Linked DNA regions of Homo sapiens. The protein of the gene in region 1 purifies or fractionates together with the protein of each later gene. This does not show direct contact. Each region holds a gene or a part of one and is shown in the gene's direction. Other genes may lie near its edges.

What was found.
Region 2: the proteins of STARD13 (region 1) and PPP2R2C purify together in Homo sapiens (co-immunoprecipitation; one large-scale study listed by IntAct). This does not show direct contact.
Region 3: the proteins of STARD13 (region 1) and TESK2 purify together in Homo sapiens (affinity purification with mass spectrometry, with the first as the bait; one large-scale study listed by BioGRID). This does not show direct contact.
Region 4: the proteins of STARD13 (region 1) and DCLK1 purify together in Homo sapiens (affinity purification with mass spectrometry, with the first as the bait; one large-scale study listed by BioGRID). This does not show direct contact.
Region 5: the proteins of STARD13 (region 1) and HHIPL1 purify together in Homo sapiens (co-immunoprecipitation; one large-scale study listed by IntAct). This does not show direct contact.

Annotation. Positions count from the first base shown.
Region 1 is NC_000013.11:33,111,240-33,114,758, reverse strand, and holds part of STARD13 (stAR-related lipid transfer protein 13), read left to right. Parts: intron 1-1,827; coding exon 1,828-2,038; intron 2,039-2,866; coding exon 2,867-2,981; intron 2,982-3,519. UniProt on the Homo sapiens protein: GTPase-activating protein for RhoA, and perhaps for Cdc42. May be involved in regulation of cytoskeletal reorganization, cell proliferation and cell motility. Acts a tumor suppressor in hepatocellular carcinoma cells.
Region 2 is NC_000004.12:6,326,115-6,329,633, reverse strand, and holds part of PPP2R2C (protein phosphatase 2, regulatory subunit B, gamma), read left to right. Parts: intron 1-280; coding exon 281-372; intron 373-3,519. UniProt on the Homo sapiens protein: The B regulatory subunit might modulate substrate selectivity and catalytic activity, and might also direct the localization of the catalytic enzyme to a particular subcellular compartment.
Region 3 is NC_000001.11:45,453,147-45,456,665, reverse strand, and holds part of TESK2 (dual specificity testis-specific protein kinase 2), read left to right. Parts: intron 1-3,519. UniProt on the Homo sapiens protein: Dual specificity protein kinase activity catalyzing autophosphorylation and phosphorylation of exogenous substrates on both serine/threonine and tyrosine residues. Phosphorylates cofilin at 'Ser-3'. May play an important role in spermatogenesis.
Region 4 is NC_000013.11:35,809,878-35,813,396, reverse strand, and holds part of DCLK1 (serine/threonine-protein kinase DCLK1), read left to right. Parts: intron 1-2,428; coding exon 2,429-2,562; intron 2,563-3,519.
Region 5 is NC_000014.9:99,658,628-99,662,146, forward strand, and holds part of HHIPL1 (HHIP-like protein 1 isoform a precursor), read left to right. Parts: intron 1-800; coding exon 801-1,129; intron 1,130-1,652; coding exon 1,653-1,779; intron 1,780-3,519.

The DNA of each region.
Region 1 (3,519 bases):
AGATGACAGGCGACTCTTCAAAAATGATGGCTGGGAAAAAATGTTGGCATGGAAAAGAAGCTTAGTAATCTAAAGTTAAACAATGTATACACACTGGACACCTTACCTAGAGCAGCATATTTAAAACAATTCTGCAGCTCAAGCAAAACTTGTTACACCTCTCACAAGCTTCAGATCATTAGTACCATCTGTTTCTCCTCCACCCTAAGCGAGAGTAAGAAAATGGGTTCACTCTAATTTTAACAAAACGGCTCTTCTCTGTAAACCCCAGGTATATCTTGTGCCAGTACACAATGGACATGGTGGGAGTGGAGACGGGTTTCAGACCACTGAAGGCATGCTCAGGCTTTTCTAGGAACTTGGATTTGCTAATCAGGGCCATAGTGTGGTCAGCCCTGGCATGTGACGTCATGCCTCCTGCATGAGACTGCAGGCGAATCCAGCATCGATAGCCCCCCAGGACCACAAAGCCTGGGGCCAGCCAGGACCCCCTCAGAAGGTCACACCTCAGCCCTTCTGGAACAGCCAGCTCTGAGTTTGTTTTTATCATGCACTCCTGCCAGTAGCAAATATCTGAATGTGTATTTATGTTTAGTAATATAAATATACTGGATGTACTCTAATGTACTATGCACATTATAAAGCACACCCAATCAGTATTTTTAATGGGTAAGAGAAAAGATAAACACACGTGGGAGTGCTAATGATTTCTTCTCACACCTCAAGAGACTGTCAGGAGCACACCTCCCCACCCCTTGAGAATTCAGACACCCTCGTGTGGAGGCCCCTGCTCCAGAACATGGCACTTTAAGAAAGACAACAGTGTTGACAGAAGCAAGCTCCTGACGGTGTCTTTCGCAGTGAGAGGACTAAAGTGATCATGAAATAAACACAGCCACAGGTGGGAGCAGCAAAAGGCAGCACCTATCACTCATTTGGTGTGATTTCCATTTAGTTCCCCTCATATTGTTGGAACCAATTCCCTGGTAAGCCTGCATAACCAGTACCCACTACCACAAGGACCACCCTCAAGGGTAATGGCACTGAGAAGGGCCAGACATCCCCCATAACCTTAGGCTGCCTGGTTCTTCTTCTCCAAGCACAGCCTCCATTTCCATAAACCCCAAGATTATGGAACAGGTGACGCTGGGTCTCCACATGAAGTCAATAGCAGGCATCCTGCAAAGCAAGTCCTGGGAGATTTGTAGGAAAAAGGAAGATGTACAGGCTTCCCCTCGAGAAGCTGGCCCTCTAGGAATGAGGTCAGAGGTCCCACCAGCTCAACACCACTCCCGGTGAATTGTGCAGCACTGGCATCATGGCCTGGCTGGCAGGGGTGGAGAAACGCAAGGCGAGGCTACTGTTCCCTAACCCAGTGGTTTTCAAACCATGTCCCACGGAGCCTTGGGCATCCTGAGAGTGGCTTCCCAAGCTGTCTGTCAGGGAGGATGGGCAAGAGGGATGCCAGGTTGACAGAGTCCTAATCACCAACTTCACCCAGAAGCCTTCTGAAAGCAGGTGAGTGGGTTGATTGCTCAGAATACAGAAAACCAGGATGGTGGTGCCCCTTTCTAAACCCTGCTTGGCCATCGAGAGCGTGGGATCCAAAGTTCAATTGCAAGGGTTGGGACTCAGCTCTGCCTCCCATGAGCTGCGAGGCCTCAGCAATTACTGACTTCTTTGTGCCTTTCCTGCTGTTCTGGTTGTTTTTGTTGATGATGACTCTGGGTGCGTGTTCACACGAGGAATGTGGAGCTTACACAGTGCTTCCCAGCTGGCTCTTTCTATGTCTGCTCCTCCAATGACCTGGCATCCACTTTTCCTCAGATGTCTCCAAAGAGCAGCGGCTGCAGGCCGTGCAGGCTGCCATCCTGCTACTGGCCGATGAGAACAGGGAGGTCCTGCAGACGCTCTTGTGTTTCCTGAACGACGTCGTCAACTTGGTGGAAGAGAATCAGATGACGCCCATGAACCTGGCAGTGTGTCTGGCCCCCTCCCTCTTTCATCTTAATTTATTGAAGAAAGAAAGCTCTCCACGGTGGGTTTTTTTTCTCAGTAACAACAGTAATCCCAAAGCAGGCATTCCCACAGTTCATAAGACTGGATGGATGGATGGATGGATAGATAGATACGAATGGATATATTGGTAGACAGATTATAGATAGATAGGTAGGTAGATAGATCAACGATAGGTAGATGATAGATTGATAGATAGTTGATACATAGATGATAGATGACAGCTAAATAGATAGATGATAAATAGATGGTAGATGATAAAGAGAGATAAATAGATGATTGATAGGTAGATAATAGAGATAGATAATAGATTATAGATAGATAAAATGTGTCTCATGCTACATTTCAACTTCAGGATTTGTCAACACTCTTTTCATAATCAGAAAATCTTGTGAGACACCCTAATTCACGGGGCTCAGATTCATAGAATTATTGAGCTAGCATTGAAGAATGCCAGCTGTGATCCAGAAAGCTTGAGTTTTATGTTGTCTGTGTGAGTGAGGAGGAAAACATACACAAAGTAGTATTTTACAATTTTTAAAAGGCTATATTTAAGACCAAAGCACAGGAGCTTGCAGTTAAGGGGTTTCAAACTTTGGAAAAACAGATTAATTTTGTCCCCTGCTGTTCTTCCTGCCCTTTAGTTTTCCAAGATTTTTCCTTGTGAACTGTCAGACTGTTAGCCTGATTCAGATATCTAAGATATGTGATCATTGTTTTTATTTGGAAACGCAAAAGCCTGGGATCTGGATAGCATCTGGGTATAAACAGAAAACAAAAGGGATGAGTTTGGTATTGTGACAAGCTCGTTGGTGTGGGATCTGCTTAGCACACTCACGTTCAATTACAGAGTCATACAGAAGAAATATGCCACTGGGAAGCCAGATCAAAAGGACCTCAACGAGAATCTGGCAGCAGCTCAGGGGCTAGCGCACATGATCATGGAATGCGACAGACTTTTTGAGGTGAGCAAAAGGCTCGAACCTCCGCCTCCCTAGTAGCTCTTGGAACTAGATAAGACGCTTGGGATTGTTGCTACATTTATGGTTTCTATCTGTTTGTTCCTGATTTTATGACAATAGTATATGTTATAGCTCTGGTGTTTGCTTCCAAGAAAGCTGAGGAGCTAGCTATACAATTGAGGCTTTGATAAAGACACTTGGGATTACCATACTGATGGTTTTTATGCAAACAGTGCATCACCTGCCATTATCAGGTTCAAGGCCAGTCAGCCAATTATGTTCTATTTGATTTTACCTTGGAGCTTGATTAGGTTAAACATCTGTGTGAGTGTGTGTATGATACTGAGGAATCTTTGTTGCTAAGAACCAATGACAGCTTATGAATACAGCCACAGATATGTAAAAGAAGTAAGTGAACCAGACTTGTGGCATACTTTTGTGATAGAATTGGCATTTGTCAATGGGAAAAGTGTGCTAAAAAAGTAAAGCTATTCCCAAGTCATGTTTGATGTTTCCCTTCACAAGTCTGTCTGTTTTAAGT
Region 2 (3,519 bases), on another chromosome or scaffold:
GCCGTGTGCCTGGTCGTGGGCCCCCCGATAAGATGAGCAGGGCTGTATTGGGCTGTGTCACGGTCGGGGTCAGCCGTGTGCCTGGTCATGGGCCTCCCGATGAGATGAGCAGGGCTGTGTCGGGCTGTGTCAGAGCATTCAGACCCTCGCTGAGATGAGCAGGTCTGCGCTGGGCCATGTCAGGGCATGCAGACCCTCGCTGCTCTTTGAGACCCTTCTTGTGGAAGGGCCAGGATGGTCGGGACGCCCCGTCCACTCACCTCATCCCTTATCCCACCAGGTCCATGACTACCTTCGGAGCAAGCTCTGTTCCCTGTACGAGAACGACTGCATTTTCGACAAGTTTGAATGTGCCTGGAACGGGAGCGACAGGTAAGCCCTGACCTCAGCCCGCACCTCACCTCACCGTAGGGAGGGTTTCTGCCCTGCAGGGGTCTGGGCTGGGATTCCGGTGACCCGCAGCATGGGGCTACTCAGCCTCAATGGGTCCAGGTGTCTGGGTGAAGCCCACGCTTTCCAGAGCAGGTCCAACTCTCAGCGCTCAGATTCAAGGGGCAGGACATGAAATTCTTCATCTTCTGTCACTGAACCTCACAGCCACGTTGGCGCCTGCCCTATGGGCAGTAGTGGGAACATGTTTAGTTAATTCAGGGTCCCCGGTGATGTGCTCCCCTCTCCCAGCTTGTCGGGGGCGAGGGCTATAGCCCAGCACCCGGTCACCATCATCCATCCACACCTGTATGTCCTGAGACAGCCCTGCACCCCTGTGGCTTTGACCATCGGTCTACTCACCCCTCCTCCCATCACCACTACTGTCTCCCTCTCTTCCTGGTGACACCCCACTCGGGCCCGCTGAGGCTCAGGGGCACCTTGGAGCTCCTACACCCTCCAGGGCTTGTCACAATCCACAAGTCCAGCCGTCTCTCAACCCCACCTGCCTGGAAAGTGGCGCCCCAGTGCCAGAAGTGAGTTCCTGTGTCTCCCTAGCCTGGGCTCAGCCCAGGGCGGGCATGGACAAGGGGGCTGTGGCAGGGGCTCCTGACCTGACCTCTACCCGTGGGTCCTTACCTCTGTGTCTCTTCTCTGGGATTCTTCCTCCATTCTGGAGGTGGGAAAATCCCTCTTCTGCCCTCCCAAATCACATCAGCTTTGTGCTCAGGGTCCTGCCAGGCGTAAGATTCTGAAATGGACAAGCCTACTCTCCATCTGTGAGTTTCGATCTCAGAAGCTGAGAGGTGGCCTCTCAGTGTCTCCTACAGCTGCTTCCTCAAGGACAGGATGCCTCTTTGTCCAGCCGCCCAGATTCAGAAGTGGGTCTCCAGATGATACACAGTGTGGAGATAAAGACTACACTGGCTGCTAGATCAGAATACCACCTGTCAGGAGCCCATGTACTGTCACCTCCTCCCCGCAGTCCTGTCCAGTGTGGTGGGCAAGGAGGGTGGAGTGAGAGCCAGCAGCCCTGACTTGGGCATCACCTGGTGGGGGGCTGTCCACCCTGTGGATGGCATCAGTCAACATGACAGGTCTGGGCTCTCCCAGACCTCTGAGGGTGGCTGGCACTGTGGTGGTCATGTGAGAGCTGCCGCACTATGACTCTCTGTGGCTCTGGGCATAGGGCTGGGACCATCAGGGTTGGTGTGTGGGATGAGGGGAGGGCTGGACATGGCAGAGACAGGACCAGGAGGGAGCCCCCTGGAAGCAGGGCTGGATCCAAGTGGGGGGCCAAGTCATTGTGTCCAGGGAAGGAGATTTCTGAGAGAGTTGCCAACATCCTGGAGCTCCCCCAGCCCGCAGGGGTCTCTCAGCAGAGCCCGAGCTCAGGCAAGGGGCTGGCATGGTGATCACAGGGGGCCACTAAAGGATGCTTAGAAAACCAGGATGGAGGCCCGACCCGGGGCTGGGCTGGCACAGCTGGGTCAGCAGGACACAGGACCTTCTCTCTAGGCCCTGCCCCCAGATAGATCCCAGACACCCCCAGCAGACAGGGCTCCTCCCATGCTGCTGAGCTGCATTTGGGGTTCCCTGGTGCAGTGGGTCCCAAGAGGGTCTATCCAAATCGGACGAGAGGGACCTGCAGCTGTAACAAGCTGATTCCAGCTTTTATGTGCGTTTTGCGGGGTAGGTCCCCGCTGGCTGCGACCCACTGCCCGTCCTTCCTTCAAGCTGCCACCAGGGGGCACCCGCGGCCAGGTGATGCCTGCTCCCAGGACTGGAGAAGCCGCCAAGCATCCCCAGGCTGACAGTGGTGTCTAGGCCTGGGCTCTCCTGTCCTGCCTCCCACCCGCCACTTCCTGCGTGCACTTTACACGCCAGCCACGCCCTGTCCTAGTGGTCCCCCACCCGCCTCACTGTCTCTCGCTCCACAGCTGGCTCTGCTCTGCCCGGCTGGAACCTCTGTCCTTGTTTGCCTCCCGCAATGGGTGGGGTGCCCTGGGGGGCTACTATGACTCAACCTGTTCTGAGCCCTTCACTGGGGACCTCAGGTGTGTCCAGTGGCTGTGGGTGTTTCTAGAAGGCATAGAGGTGTGCCACCTCCCAGTTCACTTTGAGCACTGTTCTGAGAACAACATGCCCCATGGTCAGGGGTCCCAAGATAAACAGACCCTGGGTCCTGCCTTCCAGGGCCTCAGAGGCTCAGGAGAGAAGCAAGGATTCCCCCCAGGTTCCCACATCCTTGCAGACCAAAGCAAACTCGAATCCTGGCAGGCTCCCAGTTGCTGCCCTCTTATTCCTGGTGACCCCCTCTGACAGTTGGTCCGGCCCGCAGAGCGCCGCTGCTGCCGCGTGGTGGCTGCCCGATGGCCCCTGCCGTGGGGCTTCCTAGCACCGGCAGAACGCAGATGGGCAGCGTGCTGTGGAGAGGCAGCAGCTCTCCTGCTGGACTCTCTCAGTCTCTGGTCCACATTCTACCCTCGCCACCGTGTGCTTGAGGAAGCCCCTAAGTCAGCTCGGCTGGAAAGTGGTTCTAGGAAACTGGCCTTCGTGGCCGCTTTGGGGATGAGACCATGTGTGATGCCTTCAGCAAGATCCCAGTTCGTATGCGCAGGGGTGCCGCAGTGATCCTGCGTGGACTATCCTATTGGCAGGCCTGCCCTTCCCCAGGTTACCTACCCGGAGGAATCCCGCAGGCCCTCCCACAACAGGCTTCAACGCCCCCTCCTCCATGAAGTTCTCCTTGATCTGTCCTGCCTGGGGGGAGAGATTTGTGCCAGCCGAGCGTGCTCGGGTGCGGGAGTCAAACACACCTACACTTGCTCTGAGGAGTCCTGGGCAAGGCTCCCCCAGGGGCCCATGCTGTATCCCTAGGGCTGTTTTTTTCTCTCCGGCCGTTTTCTTCTCTCCATGCTTCCCCATCTCCGCTCCTCCCTGCTTCTTCTTACACACTGGCCTCATCCTCTCCCTCTTCAGAGATGACCCCCAAATCATTCCCCTTTCCATTATCCTCAGCCAGCCAACCCCTCCCAGGGACTGTGTAAAACTCTCATGGAAGGATCTGATTGGCTCTGTGTGGGTCAC
Region 3 (3,519 bases), on another chromosome or scaffold:
GAAATTCTCCCCTCTCTTTTCTACATTGTATTTTCACTACTAAGTATTACCATTAACATGTTAAAAAAATTCTTTTAAGGAAAAAAAAAACCCAAATATTTTGGCTCTGTTATTTCCCCTTTATTTTATTTTATTTTTATTTTTTTTGAGATGGAGTCTCACTCTGTTGCCCAGGCTGGGGTGCAGTGGCATAATCTTGGCTCACTGCAACCTCTGCTTCCCGGGTTCAAGCAATTCTCCTGCCTCAGCCTCCCTAGTAGCTGGGATTACAGGCGCCTGCCACCACACCTGGCTAATTTTTGTATTTTTAGTAGAGACAGAGTTTCACCATTTCGGCCAGGCTGGTCTTGAACTCCTGACCTCAAGTGATCCACCTACCTCAGCCTCCCAAAGTGCTGGGATTATAGGCATGAGCCACCGCGCCCAACCTATTTTATTCTATTATTTTATTTTATTTTATTTTATTTTTTGAGACAGGGTTTCGCTCTGTCACCCAGGCTAGAGTGCAGTGTGGTGTGATCATGGCTTACTGCAGTCTTGACCTCCCTGGACTCAGATGATCCCCCCACCTCAGCCTCCAGAGTAACTGGGACTACAGGTGCATGACACCATGCCCAGCTAATTTTTGTATTTTTTGGAGAGTTGGGGTTTCACCTTGTTGCCCAGGCTGTTCTTGAACTCCTGGGCTCAAGTGATCAGCCTGCCTCGGCCTCCCAAAGTGTTGGGATTACAGGTAAGAGCCACCACACCCAGCCCCTATTGTTTCTTTTATTAATAGGTATACTTTCCCATGTCTTGTTTTTTTTTGGACCAAAACAACTCCATAGAGTTGTCTCTATGTACCATTTCCAGCTTCTTTCTTTCTAATGTGTCTTTCTCTAAAATACTTTTTATTGCAGTAAAATATATATAACATAAATTTACCATCTTAGCCATTTTTTAAGTGTACAGTTCAGTGTCATTAATTACATTTACAATGTTGTACAACCATCTCCATTATCCTTTTCCAGAACTTTCTCATCACCTAAACAGAATCTCTGTACCCATGAAACGTTAACTCACTAATTCTCCCTTCTGTAACTGTAAATGGGTTCATTGCCCAATGCACACAGCAAGTCAATAAGCTGAGACTCCAGGTTGCAGCAGAGAAAGGTCTAATCATAGGGCCGCCAAATGAGGAGATGGAGGAAAACCTCAAATTCATCTCCCGTAAGAGATGGGGGCTAAGGTTTTTTAAGGGTTTTGAAGTGGGCCGAAGTGTGGCAATTGTTTATTTGTTAAAGAGTACAGGATGAAGTCATGGGACAGGGAGATGAAGAAGCTGTATTCTCTTGCAGATCCCGTTCCTCTGTGGGGGACTTCAAACTGGTTGCTGGAATTCAGGGGTCTGAAAAACATATTAAGCAATCCTTAAACAAAAGCCTTATGATTATAATGTCAGAGATCCTGTTATAGGAAAGATGGGGATAGAAATAAAATCTTAAAGTTTTATGACCCTAATGTCAGAAATCCTATTCTGTAGGAACAATAGGAATGCAAATAGTCAGTATCTAGTGCTATATGACTTTTAGCAACCAGGAAGTGGGCCAAAGTGCGGCCTGATTAATGCTTAATTATAACTATATTTCTGTCCAGAACCTGGCATGCACTTCTTGTGAACCCTGTGGGGGCAGTTTCACTCCCACCCACTAATATCTTCTACTTGCTGTTTTTATGAATTTGCTTATTCTAGGTACCTTATATAAGTGGGTTAATATAATATTTATCCATTTGTGTTAGAGTTAATTCACTTAGCATAGTGTTTTCAGGGTTATTCATGTTGTAGCATATATTAGAATTTCATTCCTTTTTATGGCTAATATTGCATTGTGTATATATGTCATATTTTATCTGTCGATGGTGGGGCTGTTTCCACCTTTTGGCTATTGTGACTAATGCTGCTATGGATATTGATATACAGGTATCTATTTGGTTCTTTGCTTGCAATTCTTTTGGGTATTTAGCTGTAAATAGAATTGCTGAGTCATATGAGTAATTCTATGTTTAAGAAAAGATTATGGTAAAATACATACAAAATTTACCATTTTGGCTGGGCATTGTGGTTGACGCCTGTAATCCCAGCACTTTGAGAGGCCAAGACGGGAGAATTGCCTGAGCCCAGGAGTTTGAGACCAGCCTGGGCAACATGACGAAACTCTGTCTCTGGGGGAAAAATAAAATAAAATAAAATAATAAAAAAATAAAAAATAAATCTTTTTCTTACTATCTTAACAGTATTTAATTATGTTAAGTACATACTTAACACAACTGTTAAGTATGTACACATGGTTGTGCCTCCAAACTCCAGAACTTTTTCATTTTGCAAAACTGAAACTCTGTACCCATTAAACAACTCCTCATTTCTCCATTCCCCCCAACCCCTGGCAACCACTATCCTACTTTATTTCTAAGAGTTTGACTACCCTAGATATCTTATGTAAGTGAAAACATACAGTATTTGTCTTTTTTTGACTGCCTTATTTCACTTAGTCAATCTATGTTTAACTTTTTGAGGACCCACCAGACTGTTTTCCGTAGTGGTTGTGCCATTTTACAGTTCTATCAGCAATATGTAAGGGTTCCAGTTTCTCCATGTGCTCACTGACACTTATTTTTCTTTTTCATGGTAATCATCCTATTTGGTGTGAAAAGTGGTATCTCATTGTGGTTTTGATTTGCATTTTTCTAAACAACTAGTGATATTGAGCATCTTTTCATGTACTTGTTGACCTTTTTTGTATATCTTCTTGGAGAAATGTGTATTTGAATCCTTTGCTCATTTTTGAATTGCATTGTATTTATATATTTTATATATAGGGAATATTTATCCCTTACCAGATATATGATTTGCAAATATTTTCTCACAATTTGTAGTTTGTCTTTTCACTCCCATGATGGTGTCCTTTTTTGCACAGAAATTTTAAATTCTGATTAAGTCAAATTAATTTTTTCTTTTGTTACCTTTTGCTTTTTGTGTCAATCCAAGGAATCATCACCAAATCCAATATCATGAAGATTTTCCACAATGTTTTCTTCTAAGAGTTTTATAGTTTTAGCTCTTACATTTAGGTTATTGATCATTTTAAGTTAATTTTTCAATATCGTATAAAGTAAGGGTCCAATTTCATTCTTTTGCTTGAGGATACCAAATTTTACAAGCACCATTTGTTGAAAAGACTGTCCTTTCCCCATTGAATGGTTTTGGCACCCTTCATGTCACAGTCAATTAACCATGTTAGAGAGGGTTTATCTCTCTCTCTCTCTTTTTTTTTTTTTTTTTTTTTTGAGACAGGGTCTCATTCTGTTACCTAGGCTGGAGTACAGTGGTGCTATCTCACTGCAGCCTTGACCTCCCAGACTCAAGTGATCCTCCCACTTCAGCCTCCCGAGTAGCTGGGACTACAGACACACAGCATCATACCTGGCTAATTTTTGTATTTTTTTTTGTAGAGTTGTGGTTTCACCATGTTAAGGCTGGTG
Region 4 (3,519 bases), 2.7 Mb from region 1:
TAAAATGGGACTTATGACTGAATCCACCAACATCTGCTTTTGTCAAACTTTTGAGTACAGTTAGGTGGTGTAGATACTGTGTTTAAGAAAAAAGCTACAAAATTCCTGCATCAAGTGGGTTGAATAAATTACAATCTGCATCACCTCACAAAGCACACAGAATGAATGTTTGGACCTAGCAGAACATCAAAGCAGGAGATTATTTTGCATTTTAGAAAGGTTATTGTTAACAAAATGGAATTAAGGAAGTAAACAATTCTGCTCTGCCTCGGAAATCAACGAGACCATCTACTAGATGTTTCCATCTCAGATTTCTTTTCATGAAAAACATTTGCTTGTCATTTGGATGACCAGAATGGCTGACGTGGTAAGACTACAACTTAGGGTTTTCTTTTGCCTAAGAACAGTTAGGCTGGGGCCGATGTTGTGTTTTGCAGCTGTGATGCCTCAAAGTTTTTAACTTAACTCTAAGTGACCAAGGCTGGACAGCTGCTTCATTAAGTTAGGAAGAAAATGTCCGTCCCAGATGACAGCTGGGCAAAGCCACATCTGTGAGGGACATATGGCTGTTTTTGCCCTAACAACCCAATCACAGGTGACCTCACAAATCTTCGGATACCTGCCAGAGGGCAGCCCAAACTTGATCCTGATCAACAGCTCCTGGGAATAAGACTCCATGCTATGAGTGTGGAGAAAACGTAAAAGAATATTTTCTGCTCAGAAAAGATGCAGTCTTTCAGATAGGTGGATCTGACTGCCTGCTTCTGCCAAAACTGTTGGATCCAGGTGATCATTGCTGATATTGCAGCTTAGCTGGCCAAACATCTGCATTTTGTGTTGCAGTGAAACGCAAAGTTAATCTACTTTTTCCAAAGGAAGGCAGACGTGACGTGTGAACAGTAGCGGTGCCCCTGATGTGTGGAGATGTGCCTTGCTGTGCAAAAGATTCAAACTACTGCAGCAAGTAACAGATGATCACAGAGTGAGAACAGGAGAATATGCAAGCCTCGGCTTGCTGGATCAAGTATTTTGATGTACATGGAAAACTTAGCTGCTTCCTTGAGGCATTCGTGAAGATTGCCCTTGCTGGAATTACTAGCCTTTTACTGTGGTTTTCTTTTCTTAATCTTATTCATTCCAACAGAGGGGACTCAATTAGGATTCTGAACGCCCTTTCATCTTTTCTTTGAAATAAAATAAGTTATTTGGGATACTTTTTAGAGCAGCTCCATTTGTTTTGATCGTGGCTGGAATTAAAGGAGTATAAATACTTGCCTACAGTCACATGCATCCTTTTCTTGATTTGTTGGGTGAAAGAGAGAAGATTTTTACTGCCTTAATAAGGGAAACCTGGACAGGATGCTGACTCTGCACCTGATAAATCTTTCCAAATTGCCACAGGTGAAATGAAATGTTAATATCTCTTTCAATTATTAAGAAATGTAAATAGATCATGTTGAAAATACGAGGCACTGAAAATAAAGTATTTTACTATAAGTATAGTTTTTTTGTATTTAGTTACTAAAGAATTGCATTTTTAAAGTTTCTTTCTTTTTTTTTTTCAGACAGATTTTCGCTCTTGTTGCCCAGGCTGGAGTGCAATGGCTTGATCTCAGCTCACTGCAACCTCCACCTCCCGGGTTCAAGTGATTCTCTTGCCTCAGCCTCCTGAGTAGCTGAGATTACAGGTGCCCGCCACCACGCCCAGCTACTTTTTGTATTTTTAGTAGAGACAGGGTTTCACCATATTGGCCAGGCTGGTCTTGAACCCCTGACCTCAGGTGATCCACCTGCCTTGGCCTCCCAAAGTGCTGGGATTACAGGCGTGAGCCACAGCTCCCGGCAAGTTTTCTTAATATATTGAAACAAAGAGATTATTTTCATAAATCGGAGACACTGCACTAGGGACTTTCTATACTTCATTTTATTATGCAAATCAGTTTTAATTATAGACAACATCAAAGACAGATAAACAAAAGGATTAAGAAAACCTGTAATCCTACCACCAAGAGACAGATACATCGGCACTGTGTTCTTTCAGACTTTTTCTTTTTTTTTTGTATGTACTTTTTTTCTTTAATGGACATTTTATAAAAACCAATCTGAAAATTGCTCTGCTCATTTCCCAAACATAATTCAATAACTATAAACCTGTATCGCCATTTTAAGGTCATGTAACCTCTCGTTGTATGAATGTACTATAATTTATTTAATCAATTTCCATTTGTTAGGTGTTCACCATGATTCCAGTTTTGCAGTAATCTAAAGGAAGTAAGCTATTTTGTATGTATATCCATTCTTGCATAATTGCCTAATTTATTTTTTACCTCCTATACATTAAATTTAAACACAGTGTTCCTCATTTCTTCAAGAAAGGGCTTTTGAGCTCTTGGTTTTCAGACAATTGTGATTTTTACCTTTGTTTTAGGTGTATGAGCACCAAGATGGCAGCAAATCACTGAAGCTGGGTGACTTTGGACTGGCCACCATTGTAGACGGCCCCCTGTACACAGTCTGTGGCACCCCAACATACGTGGCTCCAGAAATCATTGCAGAGACTGGGTAAATGCTTCTCTTATGTTTAAGTGCTATGCTTGCAAAAGAACTAGCCCGCTTCGAGAATAGGAAAAATAGTACTGCTGTGCCCTATCCAGACATAATTAGCTATCAGGTTTCTTCCACTCTTTTTAAAATTGTATTTTATTCTTTAACATTTACAGTGGGAGCCATTTTCTCTGTTTTCCCAATCTGTTTTGTCAATTACTGCAATCTTAAGGCTTCCATTTGGTCTTTGTTAAAGGTAGAACAGAAGTTATTAACCCCAGAGTAAAAAATGTTCAGACTAACAGAAACACACAGCGATGGTAATTAACTCTCATTTGGAGATAAAAGAAACAGACACTGCCGTGTGCGGTGATTACAGTCTCCTGCAGTTATTTCTCTCTGCTGCCCTTATCCTCCAGTCCAGGTCCCATTTGGGACCTCTTGGGGATCCATTGATTTTCCGTGGAGTACAAACACCCTTAGGCATCAGGGACCATTGGGAATTTCCTGGTTTCTGTGTGCAGAATCAGATGAATGTGGGGAGAAGGGTGGGGTAGCCTATTCCTTACTAAGACCCCACAATATGCTAGGCCTGAAACTCCTTTACTTCTTACTCTTCCAGTCGATGGTTTGATTCCCATTTTGCACTTCAATAAATTGAAACTCTAATGGGTTAGATACCATGCAAGCTCATGATTAGTTTTAGTGGTTGAGTCAGGATTTGAACTCAGGTCAGCCTGAGTCAAAGACTCCTTTGGTAAGAAGCCCTATTTCTTACCAAGGGCCATAGGCAGGCTCTGAGGTGCCATCCTTAAGCAGAAGGAATAACAGGGTGGGGCACTGAGGGGAGGCAGCCCTACTTTTTCTTCTCATTAGCAGTTTCAGTCCACAGCTGGGAATCTAGGTGGCACTCTCCCCTGTGACCAGTTGGAGATAGTTTTTCGAGGTTTTGTTTTGTTTTGTTTTTTGCTTGTA
Region 5 (3,519 bases), on another chromosome or scaffold:
CGCTGAGAAGGGCATGTTCTCCGCACTGTCTTTAAGCACATTACAGATTTTTCCCATCACGCGTCACTTTTGTCATGAGCTATCCTCCTTAGCTGCTTGGAGCTTAGGGCTGCACCCCTCTGCTCTCTCCCCCTCTCCCCACCAACCCGCACGCTGGTGCATTTGGCTTTGATTGCAATCCTTCATTCACTGACTCTGCACTTAATGGTCACCTACTATGTGCTGGTCACAGTGCCGAGTACTGGAAGAAAACTGTAAATACAAGTCATTTTTTCTAGTGGAATTTTCACCCTATACCACAGTCCGGGAGGACTGAATGGTCTGAGCGGGACCACTCTACTATTACAGTTGAGGACACCAAGATTCCACAGAGTGTGTGGTAAAGAGCTTGAGTTTCTGGGCCCAGGCTGTCTGGGCTGGATCCCAGCGGTGCGGCAACTGGGCGATGTTATTTGAGCTTTCTGAGCTCCGCTGCCACATCTGTAAAGTGGGGATCATACTAGGACACACCTACCTAAACGACTGTTGTGAGGACAAGACGAAATAGATGATGTGTTGTGTCCAACGCATGGGACAGGCCTGGCGCACAGGAAGGTGGGGGATGCATGTTGAGTGAATGAATGGTTACCCGGCTGTAAGTAGTTAAGGCGGACAGCATCCCAGGGTCTCTGGCCCCACAGCCTAGGCTCACCCTGCACCTGGCTCAGCGGTCAGCCGGCGCCCCAGCACCTGCCCCGCGGAGCCCGTGAGCCCTGGCTCAGGGCGACCCCGAGCCGCGCCCTCTCCCACCCCGCCCGCAGGTCGGCGCTGCTGGGCAAGGTGCTGCGCATCGACGTGGACCGTAAGGAGCGCGGCCTGCCCTACGGCATCCCGCCCGACAACCCGTTCGTGGGCGACCCCGCGGCGCAGCCCGAGGTCTACGCCCTGGGCGTGCGCAACATGTGGCGCTGCTCCTTCGACCGTGGCGACCCCTCCTCGGGCACTGGCCGCGGGCGCCTCTTCTGCGGCGACGTGGGCCAGAACAAGTTCGAGGAGGTGGACGTGGTGGAGCGCGGCGGCAACTATGGCTGGCGCGCGCGCGAAGGGTTCGAGTGCTACGACCGCAGCCTGTGCGCCAACACCTCTCTCAGTGAGTGCCCGCGCCCCGGGGACCCCGGCCCCGAATCCGCCCCCACCCCACCCCACCTGCTGTGCCGCAGGGCCTCCCTCGGAGACCGCACCCCCCCCCCCCCGGAGATCCCTGACCCTGAGTCTGTCCTCGGCCCCACTCTATGGGCTGTGCGGCAGGGCCTCACTCGGGGACCACCCGCACCCCAGGCACCCCCTGACCCTGGATCTGCCCCCACCCCAACTCCACGGGCTGTGAGCCAAAGCCTCCTTCGGTGACTGCCCCCGCCTCCACCCGGAGCCTCCCTGCGCCTTGGAGGCCTCCCAGCAGCGCTCTTGAGTTCTTCCTCGCTCCATCCCCACCTGGCACCCCTGCAGACACGCTTTCCACCACGCCAGCCCTGCTGTGGGCACGCCAGCCCTGCTGTGGGCACGCCCCTCCCTCCGTGGCCGCCCCACCCCCGCGGAATCCCTCCGGAATTCTCCTGGCTGATGAACCTTCCCGCCGCTGGCTCACCGAAGCTTCTCTCCCTCCCACCCCGCAGATGACTTGCTGCCGATTTTCGCCTACCCGCACACGGTTGGCAAGTCGGTCACAGGGGGCTACGTGTACCGGGGCTGCGAGTACCCCAACCTGAACGGCCTCTACATTTTTGGGGATTTCATGAGCGGGTAAGTGACCTAGTGCCCTCGCGCCCCTGGCTGCTGCCACTGGCTCCTTGGGACTGGCTCCTTGGTAAAGGGGAGTGTATGTGTGCGCCCGTTCCTGCACATGTGCCTCGCTGCTCTGACAGGGGCCCCTAGGTGTGGGCCGGACACCCGCATCCACCCGCTTTTCTCCTGAGATGTATGGTGAGCCTTTGCTGCAGGCCTCAGTACCTCTATGATAGACACACAACTCATGGCATTAAAGACTGGAGGCTTGCTTAAGTGCGGGTCCCGTGGTCTTCCTCTCCCTCCTGAGAACCATGGGCTCTGGGCCTGACAGCAGTTCTGATGGGCAGGAGGGCAGAATATGAACAATTTCCTGGACACTCAGGGCCACCCTGCTCCTGGGGAAGCCACAGCTTGTCACTGCAACAGCTGATGGGGGCCTGGAGCCCTGCCCCACCCCACCCCAGCCAGGACTGCAGGGAGCTTGCAAAGGTTGAGAAACTAAGACCCGAGAGAACAGTGGCTGCCCATGGGCCTCCTAATGGGGAGAGGAGGAGGTGGGGCTCTTGTGGCCTTGGAGCCTTGCTGCCCTGCCCCCGTGCTCTAGGGCAGCAGTACCACCCACTGAGACCCTGCTGTGGGAGGAGGATGAATCACATCCCAAATAGGTTTGATGGGGGAGGGAAACCTACATCACAACCCTCCTTCGAGTCAGGCTCTGTCCCCAAGGGTGCTTATGGAGCCTCGTGACCACCTTGTCCCATTTACAGAGGAGAAAGCTGAGGACTAAAGAGGCCCAAGGGCAGGCTGAGACGGCTTGGTCTGAACTCTGGCTCAGTTACTGGCCAGGTGACCTTGAGCCAGTTACTTCACCTTTCCTTATCTTCAGCTACCTCATCTGCAAAATGGAGATGATCATAGTACTTGCCCCTAGGGTGGTTTTAAGGACTGAATCAGTTAATACATAAATATCACTTAGAATCTAGTGTGGAAAGAAAGAAAGAGAGAGAAAGAAAGAGAGAGAGAGAGAAAAGAAGGAAGGAAGGAAGGAAGGAAGGAAGGAGTACATGCTTAATATATGGTGATTTTTTTTTTTTGAGACAGGGTCTCATTTTGTCACCCAGGCTGGAATGCAGTGGCACAGTCTCAGCTCACTGCAGCCTCCACCTCCCAGGCTCAAGCAATCCTCCCACCTCAGCCTCCTGAATAGTTGAGATTATAGGCATGTGCCACCACGCTTGGCTAATTTTTGCATTTTTTGTAGAGATGGGGTTTTGCTCCATTGCCCAAGCTAATCTTGAACTGGACTCAAGCAATCCTCCTGCTTTGGCCTCCCAAAGTGCTGGGATTACAGGCTGAAGGTACGGTGCCCAGCCTGGTGTTTCTTACTTATTTCCATGCAACCTCCTCTGGCAGCAGCCGAATAGGGTTCCTAAGGAGAGGGAATAAAGACATGAAGATGCCTGAAGCTAGTGGGAGAATTCTGATTTTGTGTCCAGCCTGCAGCCTGGAGCTGAGAGAGATACCTGACCTGGGCCCCTGGAAGTTGGATTCCTCTCCCAGATCCGCCCCTTCCCCGGGGACCCAGCTTTCCCATCTGGAAAATGGGTACAGATGAAGCCTCTGTTTTTACCCCTGATTCTCCTTTCTCCCTTCTGTCCTTCCCAGGAGAGCCCAAGTCTCCTGACCACAGAAATTCAACTAATTTTGCCAGTATTTTCCCAGCCGCTCTGCTGGGTCAGGCAAGAACCAGGATGA